2 separate regions of the Homo sapiens genome follow, and region 2 is linked to region 1. Evidence: fine-mapped expression QTL. A gene starts in region 1. The other region holds a variant in brackets. All regions are shown on one strand. Distances are from middle to middle. Region 1 holds the start of RGP1 (RGP1 partner of RAB6A GEF complex). Region 2 has its middle 96 kb from the start of MIR4475.

Region 1 (9,009 bases):
CTTCCTCCAGCTGTGAAACAGGAAAGACAAACTAAATACGGGGATAGTGCGTACTTACTGTCTCCACCCCAGACCAGAAGAGCCTCTGCCTCTCATCAGCACTCCTACACCTACTAACATTTCCCGTTCTTCCCTAGCCCCCTGTCACTATGAGGGGAAATATTTTACCCTGGGTGAGTCTTGGCTCCGCAAGGACTGTTTCCATTGCACCTGTCTGCATCCTGTTGGCGTGGGCTGCTGTGACACGTGAGTGACCAAAGATGGCCAGAGAGAATGACTCTGATATGAGTGACTGAGGGATGACCAGGGAGTGACTAGATTGCTGTGATGTAAGAATGAACAGAAGAGCAATACAAGATGGGCCAAACCTGAAGGGACCAACACTAGTGTGAAAGATAAGGCTTCAGGCTATAAATCAGGGGAGGTTGGGGTGGACCTGGAGAGAAAATACTCCTGTTATAAAACAAAAAGGCCCACATATGGTAGGTGACAGCTTAGTTAGGAGGACCAAGGGGCCACTGAAAGGGGCTCTGTGGGGGGAAAACTGTGAGAGAGGGAACATGTGGGCAGGGATAAAGGCAGCCTTTCACTGTGCTGACTCCTTCCCCTATCCTTGGTTCCCCAGGTCCCAGCATCCCATCGACTTCCCGGCTGGGTGTGAGGTACGTCAGGAGGCAGGAACCTGCCAGTTCTCCTTGGTGCAAAAATCTGACCCTCGGCTGCCCTGCAAAGGGGGAGGGCCTGACCCAGAATGGGGCTCAGCCAACACCCCTGTTCCTGGGGCTCCTGCTCCCCACTCCAGCTAAACTCAACTGATCATCCATCTGCTGACTGCTCACTGCTGCTGCCACTTCCAGGGAAACCACTAGCAGCTGCCAATGTATTCTGAACAAATAAATTAATGCTATAGCTGAAAGCCCGACTCTCACTGTCCACGACATTGGACCCCAGGTGGAAAAAGTGGGTCCCATTAGAGTCCAGGTGCTGAGTTCTCAGTATCCGGAAGGAACTAGCACCAGGGTGGGCCAGTTTCAGATGGTTATGGTGCTGGTGCTGGGGCCTGGGGCAGCATATGAGGCCAGGGTGGGGCTAGTAGGCAGCACCTTGATGGGCAGGTCCCAGCTGAAGGTGTCTACAGGTACTTGCTCAGGTCCTGTCCAGGTGGTAGGTTCGGGCTGTTCCACAGGGGGTAGGAGTACCAATCCTGGTTCTCGGGACGTTACAAATTCAAAATGCAATCTCCACTTCAAGGACACTATGGAAGAAAAAGATTAAGGTAGAAGCATCAGAAGCTAGCAGGAGTAAAAGCCAATGACAGGATATAGTTAGTGAATGAGAAGAAAACAATCTGTGTTCAGGAAGACAGGGAAAAGTCACAGGGCAGGGAGCTGTGATTAAGGGTTTTTCTGAAGCAATGGGTACTACCACAGATGTGAGCTGAAGATAGCAGTATTAAGTACCTAATAACCTAAGAGTGAGGCAGTCAAGTCTAGGTAGCATGAAGTAATCAAAAATCAGTGTATCACAGGGTCCTAGTAGGTAGGTGTGGGGAAGGAGTTCTATCAAGCTGTTAGGAGTTTAGGGGTCAGTGCATCTAAGAAACAGGAAGAGGTTGAAGGTCTGAGAAACTGTTCCGGGTCAGAGGCTAGACGTGGGTATGTCTGGGAGTGTGTATAAGGAATCAGGATCCATTACACCCTCCCTTAGCACAGCATTTTACTGTCCCCCTCTCCCTTCTCCAGTAACAGTGAGGGTCTCACCAATGGCTGTACAGAAGCCTGGGGTGGAGCTGAGAGGGATTGGGAGGGAGAAGCTGGTTCTAGTTGTATGTAGGCAGGATTCCTGGTGCCGGGCGTGAGTCACATGTGACACAGAGGGGACACCCCCTGCCCCACGTCGCCGCTGGTACTCAGGCTGTACACGCTCCTCGGTCTGTAAGCTGACTGAAAACTGGGAGCAAGAGACAGGTGTGTGCTAACAGGAAGTGCTGTCTGTAGGTGAGAGGACAGCCCAACCTCAAGCTGTTTTACAAAGGGACCCTGGATGACCCCACTATCCCCTTCTACATGCCACCCCTCTTTATACAGGCCTTCCACCCTAGCCCTTCAACCCCAGCACCCCAGCAGGTAAGAAGCTCTGCTCCCTTCTTACCTGCAAACAAGCTACGGTTCCTTCCCCTAAGTTTAAGGTCCCCACCACGTCCTCGCCAAGTCTGTACACAGATTTGAAGATGCCAAACGTCCCAACTTTCCCTCGGCCATCACTGATATTGTATAGATCTGGGGAGAATAGGACACTATAAGCCTGGAGTCTACATACTGGATAACGTCTAGGACTGGGCACCACAGGCCAAAAGATGGGGCTTTTCTTTAAAATTGGAGGTGTCAGGTATCAGTGGATCCACAGAAGTGTGTGGTGGTTAGGAGACTGTCTCTGAGATGGGAAAACAATGAGGGGAAGGATGGGGTAGGACAATTCTGAAAGAATTCTCACGGAGGCTGCGGCAGGATGTGGCAGCCATTAGGCGTTCCCCAGCCAGCTCAGCTAGCCATGAATCTTTCTTCCCACCTTCATCCTCCTCCAAGAATGGACTGGATGGGGCTACAGCCTCATCCTGGGGAAACCGGACATCCTGAAGGCCTAGAGAAAGAATGAGTGGAGAGGTAATGCTGAGAGGGAACGGAGATGAGAGTAGAGGTTAGGGTTTTAGATTCTAACATGAGATGGCTAAAGGTAAGGGGTGCCAGGGCTGAGGTTTACATCTCTATCTCCAGAACCCTCCCTCCCTTCCCAACTCCCTAGCACTGTCACTGAGACCAGGAAGTTTCCCTGCAGTCCCTCTTGCAAGCCCTCTAAGACAATTTCTGCTTTGGCATCGCCCTTCCCCAGCCCTTCCCTCCAGGAGCCCTTGCTTACCAGTCAGCACAAGAACCCTCAGAGGGACTCTGAGTAAAGTGATAGGGGAGTTGACACGCTGGCAGCCAATGGTCAGTTTGTAGACGTACTTGACTGACTGACCCCGAAAGGAGGGTGGTCCCTCTATGGGCAGCACTTCACTGTAGGAGTCTGGTTGGGAAGTAGTTGTCAGGACAGCCAGAGGCACCAGAGGAGTCCTCCCTCCAGGAGACTTAGAAGGCAATTCAGGGATGGGGACAATCACTCACATGATTTGGACTCTCCAGGATCAAGCCTCAGGTCACAGAATAGAATTTTCGGTGGAGTAGAAAGGATACACTGGCCCCTCTCACCTGAAAAAGGTAAAAATGACTAATTTAATGACCCATTGTCCAGTACTGAACAAGACTAGCACGGCAAGTGGAGATAGTGAAAGGCTGCCAGGCCCTCCGTCCCTGCTGTGAAATGGGAATAGTCTTCTACCCCTAAAGCAATAGTCATGCTCCCCAACATCCCCAGCATGACAGGGACTATAAGAACAAGAACAATTAACAACTTCACCCATGGGTGACAATGCCTCCACACACACCCTCCGCACCCCCCCTCTCCCAGGCAAATGCCCCTCTCTAACCTCGGTGTGGCAGAAAGACAGTCTGGCTGTCGGGCTGGACATCTGGCTGACTAGAGTCAGGAGGAGGCAGTGCTACTCGACTCTCACTGGCATGGAACTGGCAGTGGATTTGGGCACTGGCCCAGGCCAGGGCCTCACTGTGGGAAAAGGAAAAGGAGGCATCAGAGGTAGTTCCTGACCTCACAAATGCTTTCCCAAGCTCCCTATCACACCATCTTAACCAACAAGGTTAGATGGCTGTCCTAGTGATCAGGAAATCCACAATCCCAAAGAGAAACCATTAAATAAAGAGTAGCAGACTGTGCGTAAAAAGGGGAACGGGGGAGGGGAAGGAAAGCGTACAGCTATGTCATCCACATCTTCTGTTAAAGAGCCCTCTCCTACAATGACAGCACAGTGAGCAAGAGGAGGTGGTGTCGCTACAGGACAACCTGAGCTCTGCCTCAGCCCCAGAGATAATCTGGCTTCTTCCCAGAAGGGCCACCACCTTCAGTGCCAGCATCCCCACCTGGATGCAGAAGTGGCCGTGGGCGGAAGGGGGTTGGTGACGGTCACTACACACTCCAGCGCCTCCCCAGCCAAAAATACAGGACCCCGGCTGAGCTCTGCTACCACTTCAATCATGGCAGCTCCGGAATCAGATCTAGAAGGAAACAAGGCGGGGCGGAGGTCAGCACCTTGACAGGGAGGGGCGTTGCGGTGAGCACCTAGGGCTGAGGGCTGAGGACAGGGGTGGTCAGCACCGTGGTGCCCGAGGGAGCTCCTGGATATAGGAGGGGTAGGCGGGTGGGAGGGAGGCGACTGAAGACTCAGTACTGCCCAGGGGGAGGACATCGCTCTGGGCCCTAGACCCCAGCCCCTGTGCGACGGGTTCTTCTCCCTGGGCACCCCCGCGGAGTTCCCAAACTGGCCTCCGCTCCCCCTTTCCTCAAAGTTCCACGTCCCAGCCCAAGATCACCGCCGCTAGTCACCTCGCATAGTCGACACTAGGGATCGGCACCCCTAGGCCTCATCTGCCCGCCCCTCAGGGACCTGGCTAGGTACGCGGCGGCGGCGGCGGCGGCGGCGTCCGCTGGGCGGTAGAGGCGGGACTTCCCTTCGGTCCCCCACCCTCCGCGGAGTCCCTTCCGGCCGGAAGCGCCCGGCAGGCCAGACCGGAAAGGGCTCGGGTCATCCCGGCGCCCAGGGTCACCTTCCCACGGGCTGGCACCTGGGCGCGGGCGCTGCCCCGGAGCCGGCCGGCGGGACCTGGCGCCCAATCCTGGGGGACCCGGTGCCGTGGCCCAGGGGCCGGGCCGAGGTCCCGGGGGCGGTGCCTTGCGGGCCCGTCCCGGGGCGGTGCCTGGTGGGCTGGCCCCGCGGCTCCTCCCCTCTCTGCGGGCCCAGTCGCCCTTTGGCCGGGCGAGCTAATCGTCGGCTCAATGACGACGAGGCCCGACCCTTCCCGTCCAGGACCTACAGAGACAACCGAAGGAGAGCCCAAGGCGGCTTCTTTGCTGTCGCCGCCCCCACTGAAGCAAGAGCTCCCCGGCTCCACTGAAACACCAGCTCATTTAAGCTTTCCCCAACGCCCGGCCCTCCGGGACGATACCTAACAACGACCGGCGCCCGCATCTGGAATAGGCTGGCGAGATACTTAGTATCCGAGGGCTCGGGACTTGGCGCCATCGAGGTCATGGGGACCCAGGATCCAGGGAACATGGGAACCGGCGTCCCAGCCTCGGAGCAGATAAGCTGTGCCAAAGAGGATCCACAAGTTTATTGCCCTGAAGAGACTGGCGGCACCAAGGATGTGCAGGTTACAGACTGTAAGAGTCCCGAAGACAGCCGACCCCCAAAAGAGACGGACTGCTGCAATCCGGAGGACTCTGGGCAGCTGATGGTTTCCTATGAGGGTAAAGCTATGGGCTACCAGGTGCCTCCCTTTGGCTGGCGCATCTGTCTGGCTCATGAGTTTACAGAGAAGAGGAAACCCTTTCAAGCTAACAACGTCTCCCTAAGCAACATGATAAAGCATATAGGCATGGGCTTGAGGTGAGTAGACCCCATTGCCTAGAATGCCTTTGGCTTCACTTTGTTCCAGCTCAAAACTTCTAGCAGAGGTGGGAAAGGGCAAGAAAGCAGTTGGGCTTCTTGTCTGAGTGAAGCGGTCCCTATCCCTGGCATATTTTAGGCCTGTGGTTTTGGACCGTGAGACCAGGTCACATCTCTTTGCAACACCCTTCCCTCCCAGTGTTTTGTCTTTTCAGAAGGAAAGGGTAGGAACATTTGGTCATGCAATCAGCCTTTCCCATTCAGGCTCTTCTCACATACTGGTTTCCAATGACTTCCCTTTGGGATTAGCTATACTTTGTGGCAAGGTAGGAAAGGATAATCTGGCTGCTGTGATACTAACACAATGTTGTTTTATTTGGGGGTGGGGGGGTCTCAACCCCTTATTTCCCACAAGCAGCTGGGGCATTCTCTGTACCTCATTAGACACACTGTTAGAGTCCCAACACTACTGCTTCTTTCTTCAAGCTTTAGCTCCAGGGAGTAGGTAAGAAGAGCCTCCCTGCCCTCACCTCTGAAGTGATGAGAAGGTGCTGTCATTCTGTTCTGGGATAGAGAGCTCTTGATATTAAGTCATTTATCAGAGAGGCACTGCCATAGATGTAGAACCCATCTAGATCCCCACTGAGTTCAAAGACTAGTGATGAGGAGCCAGACCCATTAACAGGAACAGGTGGATGTGAGGACAGAAAGCATCACCCTGAGGTCATCCTGACTCAGTCTACACAATACACACAGAACTGTGGAGGGAGGCATAAAGCTTGGGAAACCCTGCCCTTACAGTTTCTAGAGTAGGAGACCCTTCATTTCCCCAGTCAGTGCTGTGGGGCTGTGATGGGGAGATCAGTTATCTAACCCTAGCCCTGGGGAGTGGGAAGGGCCTGATGCTGCCTGCACATCTGGCTTTGTTGGTGCCTGTGGGTAGCCTGTAGCAGAGAAGAATCATCCCTCCAGGCTGCTTCTGGAATCAATTCAGTCCAAGTTTGACCCCAAAAGTTTTTGCATCAAAATAGGATCTAGTGTACATAGAGAAGTACACTGAGTTGCATGTGGTAGGAACAATGAGATCAAGAAAAGATGGGCATCCTAGCCTCTTAGCCCTTAAATATGAACTGAGTCATAGAGGCCTGAAGCTGTGCTCAACCCCCTGGACCCTGGCTCCCCATTCCAGGATAGAGTGGGGGGTACTGATACAAGGCTTTTGGAATAGGATGAGTTCCTATGAGGAGAAAGCACAGGTGAGACAAGAATTCTAAGTGATAACTCTTGAGTTGAGGTTGAAATTGTGGAGAAGGCCAAATAGGTCAGGAATGGCCAGCTACCATATTAAGGGAGTAAGAGAGCTCCTAAGATGGAGCTGAACTGTGGGCACTCTGACCAGGAGCTCTAGCAAGACAGAATTCTCTGGGTCTTACCTTCGTAAGAACTCAATTTCAATTGTTCTCCCTTCCAGCCAGAGTCCACTCATTCAATAAATATTTATTGAGTGCTTGTTCCATGCCAGATAGTCCTTTGTTCTGTCTGTCCTCATAGATTGCAGTTACTCTCCCTGGTTGCCCTAATCCTCGGCCACACCCTCCCTCTACCAGTCCTTTCTGGTCTCTAGTTTCAAAGTCCGGTTTTCTCTAAGCTGGCAGAGAGGATTCTCTGCCTTCCTGTCATCCCATCCTTTGTCTTCCCTCTTCTTTCCACCCCTAGAATGTGCTGTCCCTTTTTATTTTATTATTATTTTTTTTTTGAGACAGTCTTGCTCTTGTCACCCAGGCTGGAGTACAATGGTGCAATCTCAGCTCAGTGCAACCTCCGTCTCCTGGGTTCAAGCGATTCTCCTGCCTCAGCCTCCTGAGTAGCTGGGATTGCAGGTGCCTGCCACCACAGCTGGCTAATGTTTTTGTATTTTTAGTAGAGACGGGGTTTCACCACATTGGCCAGGCTGGTCTTGAACTCCTGACCTCACGTGATCCGCCCACCTCGGCCTCTCAAAGTGCTGGGATTACAGGTGTGAGCCACCGTGCCTGGCCGCTGTCCCTATTCATTAATCACATTTCTTCTCCTCTGCTCCAGTCTGTTATCTCTCTTGTGCCCCATCATTTGTATGTTCATTCATCTGTAAAATTGGCAAATATGCATTGACTGCAGACCATATGTCCTACCCTGTGCTTGGACCTGAGGGTAATATTCAGCTAGTCTTTGTCATTGTCCCTTTCCCCAAGGAACTTAAAAGTATGTCAGCCTCACATGAGGAACATTGAAATAACAAGGCAATGTCTGATTAGGAATTGAGATAACAGTTTGTATATATGAGTAATAATCATACCTGTACTTTATGGCTTTCTTATCTATTATGTCATTTGATCTTTCAACCATTTCATTAGATAGCTAGAGCAGGTGGTATCCCCATTTTGTAGATGAGGAAACTGGGACTTAGGGGTTACTTACCCAATTATTTGGTTAGAAGTGGTGTGACTGAACAGTAGGCATAATGTGGCAGTAGGCAGGAGAGTGGAAATGGGAAAGAGTCTGGCAGGGCAGGGGCTACTTAGTGAGGACCCATCTGGAATGAGAATTTGTAGGAAATAAGATTAGAAGATAGGCTGGGACAGATGTCAGAGCCTTGAAAACAGAATCGTTTGCCTATTGAAAACAGCCTCAATCATTTGCCTCTTGGATATAGGGCTGTACCAAGCCCAGGAAAATGTTGGGATTTTTTGAAGGCTTTACCAAGAGCAAAATCAGAAAGCTTCACAGTTTAAATGTTGAATTTAAAAAAAAAAAAAAAAAAGGCTTGAGAGGAAATGTCCAGAAATAAATATAAACACTGATTGTCTATGGGTGAGATTATTTTTTTCCCCCTTTCACCTTTCATAATTAGAAAGAAAAATGATCATTTTAAAAAGAAGAAAGGCCAGAAGCGGTAGCTCACGCCTCTAATCCCAGCACTTTGGGAGGCCGAGGCGGGCGGATCACCTGAGGTCAGGAGTTCAAGACCAGCCTGGCTAACATGGTGAAACCCCATCTCTACTAAAAACACAAAAAAATGTGCCAGGCATGGTGGCGGGCACCTGTAATCCCAGCTACTTGGGAGGCTGAGGCAGAAGAATTTCTTGAACTTGGGAGGCGGAGTTTGCAGTGAGCCAAGACCGAGCCACTGCACTCCAGCCTGGACAACAAGGAACGAAACTCTGTCTCAAAAAAAAAATAATAAATAATAAAAATAAAGATAAGAAAGTTATTCCCAGCAGCCTATGCCTGTTTTGGAGGTAGGGGATTGGGGGCGGAGGCTGTAGGCCAGGAAACCATAAATGGTCCTTTCAGCACGTCAGACAGAAGCTCCTGATGTTGGAAATAAAGCAGTGGTGGTGGTGCTAGAGAGGTAAGGAGAGATCAGAAAGCCCCTTCTGAGGAGAACAAAGGAGAGAAACAAAGCCACT
Region 2 (9,051 bases), 980 kb before region 1:
AGTGTTTAAACTGTGTTCAAATAAGGCAAACGCCAAACTGTGAGCAATCAACTGTTTCTGTACCTCACTTTCGATTTCTGTACGTCACTTCCCTTTTGTTGTCTATAAATTTGTTCTGACCAGGAGGCATCCCTGGAGTCTCTCCAAATCTGCTGTGATTCTGGGAGCTGCACGATTCTCGAATCGTTCATTGCTCAATTAAATTCCTTTACATTTAATTCAGCTGAAGTTTTTCTTTTAACACTATGTAGCTTGGAAAGTCACTTTCCTTCCCAGAGCCTGTTTTCTCATCTGTAAAGTGGTCCTAATAACCTCTGTCTCAGAGGGTTCTTGAGAGGATTACATGGCATGGGGAAGCTCCTTGCACAAGATCTAACTCTGAGTATGCAATTTCTCTCCCTGGTCAGATGAACTTTTGACAAAGGGCTGCCTCCAGACATGGCTGCCAGGTTGGGCCTTGTTCTATTTCTCCATGGGAATGGCTCTGCCTTCCTGTGTCCTCAGCTCAGCAGGAGCTGCCCAGGAGGTTGGCCGGCAAACAATGCCACAGCCTCCTCCCTCCCCGCCTCCGCCCCTTACCCAAAAAAGGGTTCCAAATGCCTTCTATAGCTTCTTTCCTGGGCAGAGAGGGAGGGTGGGAGTAATGAGAATAAGAGAGGAGACTGACAGAGTTGGTCTCTGCCATGGGCTTCATCATGGATATATCACCTTCTACAGTGCACTGAATGATGGCCCCAGTATCAGGGTCTAATTCCCAGATTAGACTGTGCACTTACCTTATACAGCAAAATAGACTCTGCAGATGTGGATAAATTGAAAATGAGATAGATGATCCTCGATTATCTGGGGGCAGGGGATAAATACAGTCACAAGTGTCCTCATAAGACAGAGGTAGGGGGAGATGTAACACAGGCAGAGGAAATGGTAGTGTGGCCACAGAAGCAGAGATTGGAGAGATGTGGCCCCAAGCCAGGAACACAGGCAGTCGCCAGGTTCTGGAAGCCACGAGGAAAGGAATCTCCCTTAGAGCCTGTGGAGAGAGCATGGCTCCACCAGCACCTCCGTTTCCACCCGGTGAGACTGATTTGAGGCTTCTGGCCTCCAGAACTACAAGAGAATAAATTTCGGTTGTTTGAAGCCACCAGCTCTGTGGCCATTTGTTACAGCAGCCACAGGAAACTGATACACTCACCCTTCCTGAGTCCACATAAAAGCTCTGTGATCCCAAACTCATAAACCCCAAGGACTAAATAAACCTTCCTGTTAAATCATGAAGAAAGGGACTCACTCTGGGATTACCCACAGTTATTTGACATCATATGTCACCTTCTGAATGCCAGAGGGGCCAGTACAGGATCCAGCACAACCTTGGTGTTCTTGGAGAAGGGTCAGGAAATCCCAAAAGTACTTCACCAGCCCCAGAACCCTGTGCCTGGCACAGCTTAGCTGTGCTCATTTATATGCGGGGCAATATGTTTACTTTTGTTTGAGAAAAAAAAAGGGTCCAGATTCTTTAAAAAAGGACAAAAAAAGGTTTTGTCATGGTCCCAAAGAATGCAGTTTTCGGAAATGAAACAGCAGCAGAATGAATTGCAAAGGCTACTGGGCTAGTCTAATGTCTTCCTATATAGGCCAAGAAACCAATGCCCAGAGAGGGGAAGGAAGGGACTTACCCAAGGACACACAGCCAGTCAGCCAAGATGAAGCTGTAACTTGAAACTTCCAGCTCCTCCCACCCTGACACACACACACACACACACACACACTCACTCACTTGGATTCCGAGTACTCCTCAGTTTGCTAACTTTCATCCTCAAGAAGTTTGTTGCATTAGTTTCCAAGGGCTGCTGCAACAAATTACCACAAACTGGGTGGCTTAGAACAACATCAATGTATTGTCCCGTATCTCTGGAGGCCCAAAGTCCAAAATTAAGGTGTCAGCTAGCCATGGTCTCTCCAGGGGAGAAATCCTTCCTTGCCTCTTCTAATTGCTGGTGGTTCCTGGCAATCCCCGCCATTCTGGGACTTATGAGTGCCTTCACATGGCCTTCCCCTCTGCATGTCTCTCTGGGTCTCTGTCTCCTCGTCTTATAAGGACACCCATCATTGGATTAGGGCCCACTAGCATGACCTCATCTTTACTTGATTACATCTGCAAAGACCCTGTATTGCATTCACAGGTTCTGGGTGGACAAGTGTTAGGGAGGGATGCTATTCAACCCAGTATACATCTATTTATGCTCTTTATCTAGACAGATGAGGATCAGGGGTTTGAAAGCCCAGCAATAGCCTAATAATTAAACATCTGAAGGCTTTTCTCTGTGCCCCTCTCTGTCCTCTGTATGGTAGTAACCTATGGCCAGTTCTTTGGCCCTATCTAGCCTGTGCATTTTTTGCAGGCAAACACTGTGTCTCCAGCCCCCTAACATAGCCCAGACACAAAGGAGGAACTTGGAAGCATTTGCTGAACAAATGAATGAAATGAGACATTTGGAAGCACAGCCCAAAGAATGTAATTTCCAGAAGTGAAACAGCAGCTAAATGAATTGTAGCAATGTTGGCGCTCACTTCTCATACTCTTGTAGCCTCCTGCTTTCACAGTGGGCAACTGACTTGCTGGGAGTCCAGCAAATTTCCGGGGAATCTCCCTGTGGGAGTCAGGAACAAAGCTGGCATTTGGCAACTGGCCAGCAGGGGGCAGGATGGTCTCAGGGACAGAGCCCCAGAGGCTGGAGCTTGGCTCCACTTACCCAGCAAGCAAACCCTCCCAGAATCAGAGCGTTTCTGATTGCAAGGACTCTGCAACCTACTCTGACTCCTCTTTGTTCTTCTTTTATTTTCCCTTTTTTTTCTCATTAGGTCAGTACCAATGAGTCTTCTTTGAACAGATAAAGAAAGTGAGGCCCAGACAGGGGAAGGGACTCTCCCAAGCTCAGAGAGAGTTGGGATCCATAACTCCAGACCCCATTCCCTGGGCCAATTCTAGTACTGCCTGCAGGCTTCGGTCTCCCTGGGACCAACTCTAAACAAACAAAAAATAAAAGAGCTTATCAATGAAACTTGGGTCTTTTTAAAGGGGCTGCCCCCTGACTCAACTAAATATACACAATGTATATGCTCCGACCTGAGGATGCCACTTCCAGAAATGTAGCTTACATGCACACAAGGATGTTCATTGTGGCGGTGTTGATAGTAGAGAAAAACTGGAAGCAACATAAAAATTGGAAACAACCACTACAGGACTGCTTTAATAAATGATGACACAGCCAGGCCCAGTGGCTCATGCCTGCAATCTCAACACTTTGGGAGGCCAAGGCAGGTGGATCACTTGAGGTTAGGAGTTCAAGACTAGCCTGGCCAACCTGGTGAAACCTCATCTCTACTAAAAATACAAAAATTAGCCGGGCGTGGTGGCGGCGACCTGTAATCCCAGCTACTCAGGAGTCTAAGGCTGGAGAATCGCTTGAACCCAGGAGGCAGAGGTTGCAGTGAGCCAAGGTCACACCATTGCACTTCAGCCAGGGCAACAGAGTGAGACTCTGTCTCAATAAATAAATA[A/T]ATAATGACATATCTGTTTTGTGGAATACTGTATAATCATTAAAAATAAATTTTTAGAAGAATATGTATAAAGAAAAAAATTATGCTAGAAAACTGAGGAAATAATACATATTGTACATTCCTAATATTTTAAAATTCCTTGTGCATATAAAATATAATTTGTGGTTCCAGAGGTACTCACTATTTAGTACTAATTTTCTATATATGTATTTTTTAAAATTAGACCTTACAATATTAAAATAAATATATTAATTTTAAATTAAATATATACATAGTTTTATATACACACACACGCACACACATGCACATGCACGCACACACGCACACACACACGCTTAGACCTTAGACCTGGGTAAGTGTGGTCCATGCCTTAGATCCCACAATTCAAAGTGTTCGGCATTTCATAAACACACATAGGCAAATAGTTATTATGAAGACAGTCACTTCTGTTACTTGCGACCTGGTGTTCAGTGCTGCATAGCGTAACCCTAAACATTAACTTGGGACTAACATCATCAAGACCCAGGAGATGTGTCTCCAGGTCTTGTCCTCTGTCTTTGAGACAAAAGGGACTGAATCCCAATGCCACAACACCACGTGGGCTGTGCTGTGGCTGACATCAGAGATGGACGACGCTTCAGAGTACAGGGAAAATTTGAGCAGTGGACGTGCTTAAGCATGTAAGAGAATAGACAAATTAATTTGTCAAACACTTCCTCTCAGGTAGCGTGGAATGCAACATTTTCTTACATAACAAAGTATAGTCTCCCAGCAGTGCCAAGTGTCCATTTCCTTGCTTTTCTTCATGTTCTAATTCATGGTTCCAGAGGAACCTAACAGCTGAAGACTATTCTGCAATAGCAAACGATTCATTGCACTCTTAAATTTCCCTGCGTGTAGGTCCAGACATAATATGTATGAAGTATATCAGTTCTTTACATTGACAACTATAGACCCTGGATCCTGGCCATTCAAATAGCATAGAGTTTTGCTATTTTTAATACCTAATGGAATGTAATCAAACGTTTTTAAAAAATTTTAATGTCTGCTTTACAGAAATAATTTTCATCTAAATTTTTAAGATTTACTCATTGTAATTTGAGTTTTGCCTTTTGGTCTTGACAGATAATTTTGAATGTTTCAGAAGAAAATCTTTCTTAGAAAAAATGATTTAAATATTAAATATTTAAACATATGGTATGTGGAACTCCAATTGTACCCTTGCCCTGGGCCCTTCAAATGTAAGATCTAGGCCTGTGTTTAGAACACAGATTCTAATAGAAAATACACCAGAATGTCAAAGGAAGTTGACTCTAGATTATTGGATTGCTGTGATTTTTATTTTATTCTTTTGGATTTTTGTCTATGTTTCTAGATTTTCTAGTATTTATCTAGTCATAAAAAAATGATAAATATATATTTTCAAGTGTCGCATCAGCCCCCAGCCTCCTCCCGACGTGAAATGACTTTCTACCCTCAACCAGGGTCCTGGGACAGGTATCTAATTCTGCCCTCATCCCCATGACCACTCCAGACTTTCAGCAGGAGGGACCCCAGGGGTAGCTCCTCCCTTGGCCCACACTGAGCACTTCCCCCCTTAGCTGGCACCACAAGGCTTCAAGGCTTCACATAATGAGGTACAGAAAGCGGGCCCTCGATGCTCTGTGGATCACGCTCTAAACAAACAGTATTCTCAGCCTTGGGTTTCCCACCCTCCTGCCCCACCCCCGCGAGCATTTAACTTAGTGCTGCTTTCAGGACTAGGTAGAAACTGGCCGCCCTCCCTGGAGTCTGTGCTGACCTCACATCGTCCACAACAGGGTAGAAATGCCCCACCAGCTGACCTTTCAGAAGCCTCCTCTGGAGGCTAATCGGGCACACTGGGTGGGGGAAGGTGCCGTCATGGTTCCACGGACTGGTTCTGAGGCCTAGCAAATGGAATTTTCCCACATAGGGAACCCACAATGAAGGGGAAAACTGCATGTGTCCCTTTGTGAAAAACTAGTAGGAACAAAGATGGAGAAGGCAGGACGTTCTCCCTGGCTCCCATTCAGGCCCAGCAGTGCTCTGCAAGGAGTGTAACCTGACACCTGGAGCTTCCCCTGCCTATCCCACCCCAAGCACCACTCCCACCCATCCCAGTCTGGCAGTGAGTGGCACTCACCAAGGGAGAGTTGCATTCCCTTGGCAGACCATATATCCAGAAGGAAGCCCTTCCTGCAATTGGGAGAGGGGGACTTGGCCACCATGGGGGACCCAACAGAGTCCCTGAAGGTTGAAGCCAGGAAGGCCTCAGAGCTAGAATCAATCCCCCTGTTCACACCAGAGACACAGAAAGCACAACTGACTGGCCCCAGGTCCCAGAGCAATCATGTGACCATGTAAACCAAGAATTTTCTCTTCTGGCACCCCATACAGCCTGGAACTCTCCCTCACATCTGACATTTTAAATTGAACATAGGATACCTGCCACAGTCTTCAAGGAGACATACTTAGACCTCAGGAGTTTTTGGAAAAGTGTCTCCACCCAGAAGCCTGCACTGAGCTGCAAATTGAGCAGTGGCAGAGGCTTTAATGGCCTTATTCACCACCATAGCCCAGAGGTTCCCAACGTGGTACCTGGTTCATCGATTCTAAGGTGGGTATTTTTTTTCACATGTTAGTATCTCTGAAATTGAGATATAACTTGCAATCCATCATAAGTCAAAGTGTAATGGGCAGCATTCTTTCCTTCATAGTAGGCCAATCATTGTTCAGTATACAATTAATTGATGGCATCTTACATTCAATGAAATATGAGAAAATAGGGTCATAGTGGCCAAAACATATTTGTCAAATAAATAAACATACCAAGCCCTATGCTAAGGTTCTACATGCATTATCCTTTTTACCCCTCCCCCAAATCCTCCTATGAAGGAAATATTATTCCCATTTTATATATCAGAAACTAAAACCAAGAGCAATTAAAACCCTTGCCCCAGATCACACAGTAACGGTAGAGCCAGAATCAACATCCAGCTCTAGGGGTCATAGTTTCTGCTGTAACCACTGAGAAATCGAGCCTTCCAATAGAATGCAATTCCCTTGTTGCCAAGTAAAGTATGGTGACCAACCATCTCGGTTTGCCCTGGTCTGAGGGGTTCCTGGGATATGGGACTTTCAGTGCTAAAACTAGGATAAACCAGGGTAATTGATCACCTGATCACCAAGATCAAGAGTCCCTCACTCCTCCTGCCCATCTCTGCCTGCTCCCTCCGCATGGCCTCCACCTCTTCCAGGACCTGCACCTGTGAACAGGCCTCCACCCCAGCTCTTGGGCCCCTAGGCCTGGCAGGAATTCCCAGGGCTTGGGTCCCTCTCTGAATGAACGGCCCCTCCACTCTTCTGTGCCAAGGAAGCTGCCAATGTCCCTCTTTCTCCAAATGTCTCTCACCAGTGGGTGCCAGATCTAGATGTTCATTGGACCTGCTAGGCTCTTCCCACAGCTGATGGAACATCTGGCCAGGTTTTCCCACATCTTCATTGAAATGATGGACCAAGCTATGGCTCCTTAATTCCCATTTCACACTGCTACATGGATTTCAAAGTTGCTCAATGTTCTCAGGTTCAGGAAGGCTGCTAATATTAGCACTTTTGGACCCAGATAGCAAGAATCCTTTCCTGAAAGAAACTTCTCAGCTCCTCCATCTGAGACTGCAGGAATCCAGACAAGGCCCAGGTTTGTTCAGAAGGCCAAGTTGCTGTTGGGCAGTGCTTCTCAGTGGAGTCCCCAACCCAGGGCTCTTATTACAATGCAGATTCCTGGGCCCTGGCCCAACTTGATAAACCAATCTCCAGGGATGGAGCTCAGATGTCTGCAGCTGCAGGTGGTTCTGATACATGCCGAAAGTTATGAACCACAACTGAGGATAGTTTCAGACCATCGCATGGCCCCTGTCTCATGCTTCACCTCACTCCAGACCCTCCTGCAGCTGGACCCATTCAGGGACATCCAGAATCCTAGTGCCCCCACCACTGGGACCCTCGACCTCAGCCCCTTCCTCTAGAGCCTGTCACTGCTGACCCACAGTTGGTCAGGAGGTATCCAATAGCTCCATTCCTATTCAGGGGGATGGCTATGGCCCCTAGGAAGAGCCTGCAGTCCTGCTAAAGTACTCACAGGGGCAATTCCTGGAGCAGAGCCATACTTAACTCCATGCAGGCAGCTTACACACCCCTCCCGAATTCCCCACCTCTCTACCACGCCTCACCTGCCTTGCCTACTGTACTCTCCCCTCTCCTCACCTGAAACACTCCCAGGGCTCCCTGAATTCAGGTCTTTGGGGACTCCCTAGCAGTACCTGTCCATTTTACATGAGCAGTTAATAGATGGATATATGCCACTCCACCCTGACCACAACTCCGGAAATACAGAGGTGGGGGCTGGATTTTGCCCTCGGCTATATCCCCAGTGCTTAGTACAGAGCTTGGCACATCGTAGGAAGCTGAAAAATAATTGTGTAAATGCACATATAAATAAATCCCCACATGATCCTACAAAGCAAGAACTATTGTTATCCCAATTTTTACAGCTGAGGAACCGAGGCATAGGTTAAGGAGTTTACTCACACTGCGTAGCTGCTAATCGGTGGGACACAACTGGAACCCACCTGGGGTCCCAGACCTGCAAACTCTTATCCACCACACCAGTGCACCCCTGGGAGAGTCCAGGAGCAGGCAGACCTGGGTCTAGTTTGGTAGCTTGTTTGCCTTCTGTCCTGAGTCTGGGCAACATCACCACTTATAAAATCTCACTTCTGTTCTTGCTTCCATTTCCAGGCTTCCATTTCCGCTTCTCTTTCTTTCTTCTCTCCCCTCTCTCCTTTCTCAGATGTCCCCTGCCCACTGGGTCCACAACCTGATAGAGTCACAAAGGCCCAGTGAGCCCTTCATAGGGAACTTTTCAGAATCAAGATAGAGTCATGCTGGAAACAGAAAAATCCCAGCATCCCACCCAGCTGAGTCAGAGAAACAGAGGCCAATAAATATCTAAAAGAATGGGTGCTTTTAAAGAAAAGTCTGCCTTCACTATGAAAGAAAAATAAACAGAGGAAAAAGCAGCTCCTGAGGATGAAGAAAATGAATATTTGAAAAACTTGGAGAAATAGATATAATAATGATCATTGGAAGCTGGCTTCCACCCTTTACAGCAAATCCTGATGAGATGCATCCTGAAGTGTAAACAGATTTGAACAATAAACTTATTGAACCATATACAATTATTTCTGGAGAGAAATGGATGAGCGGTTGGTTAGACAAATGGAAGAGGTGTGAATGATTCTTAACACTCTGATCTGGCAAAATGGTCCTTGGAAATTAATGGAACAAAAAATTATACCGGGGAAGAGAAGCATCATCAGGAGAAAGCACTAAACATAGGAAGCATGAAATGAAAATGCATTCTTATGAATAAGAGAATTAATGAAATGAATTTAAGAAAAGGTCAAGTTGGGG

What was found. PIP is the estimated chance that this variant, and not a neighbour inherited with it, causes the effect.
Region 2: its variant is fine-mapped to the expression of RGP1 in naive CD8 T cells (Schmiedel 2018, PIP 0.95).

What each region holds. Positions count from the first base shown.
Region 1 is chr9:35,744,897-35,753,905 of GRCh38, reverse strand. It overlaps RGP1 (RGP1 partner of RAB6A GEF complex), which reads right to left and starts at 4,619. Exons shown (of 9, transcript NM_001080496.3): 1 at 4,498-4,619; 2 at 4,035-4,169; 3 at 3,527-3,663; 4 at 3,165-3,248; 5 at 2,917-3,066; 6 at 2,494-2,640; 7 at 2,152-2,279; 8 at 1,761-1,950; 9 at 1-1,255. The coding sequence starts at 4,150. The coding sequence ends at 1,032. It overlaps GBA2 (glucosylceramidase beta 2), which reads left to right and starts at 4,678. Exons shown (of 17, transcript NM_020944.3): 1 at 4,678-5,560. The coding sequence starts at 5,202. It overlaps MSMP (microseminoprotein, prostate associated), which reads left to right. Exons shown (of 3, transcript NM_001044264.3): 2 at 138-246; 3 at 626-916. The coding sequence ends at 806. RefSeq lists an enhancer at 1-1,016 and silencers at 4,330-4,379, 4,410-4,459, 4,580-4,979.
Region 2 is chr9:36,722,743-36,731,793 of GRCh38, reverse strand. No RefSeq gene overlaps it. Among named protein-coding and RNA genes, the nearest start is that of MIR4475, 96 kb to the left of the region's middle. RefSeq lists an enhancer at 5,359-5,860. The variant A/T (reference allele first, on the strand shown) is at 3,559.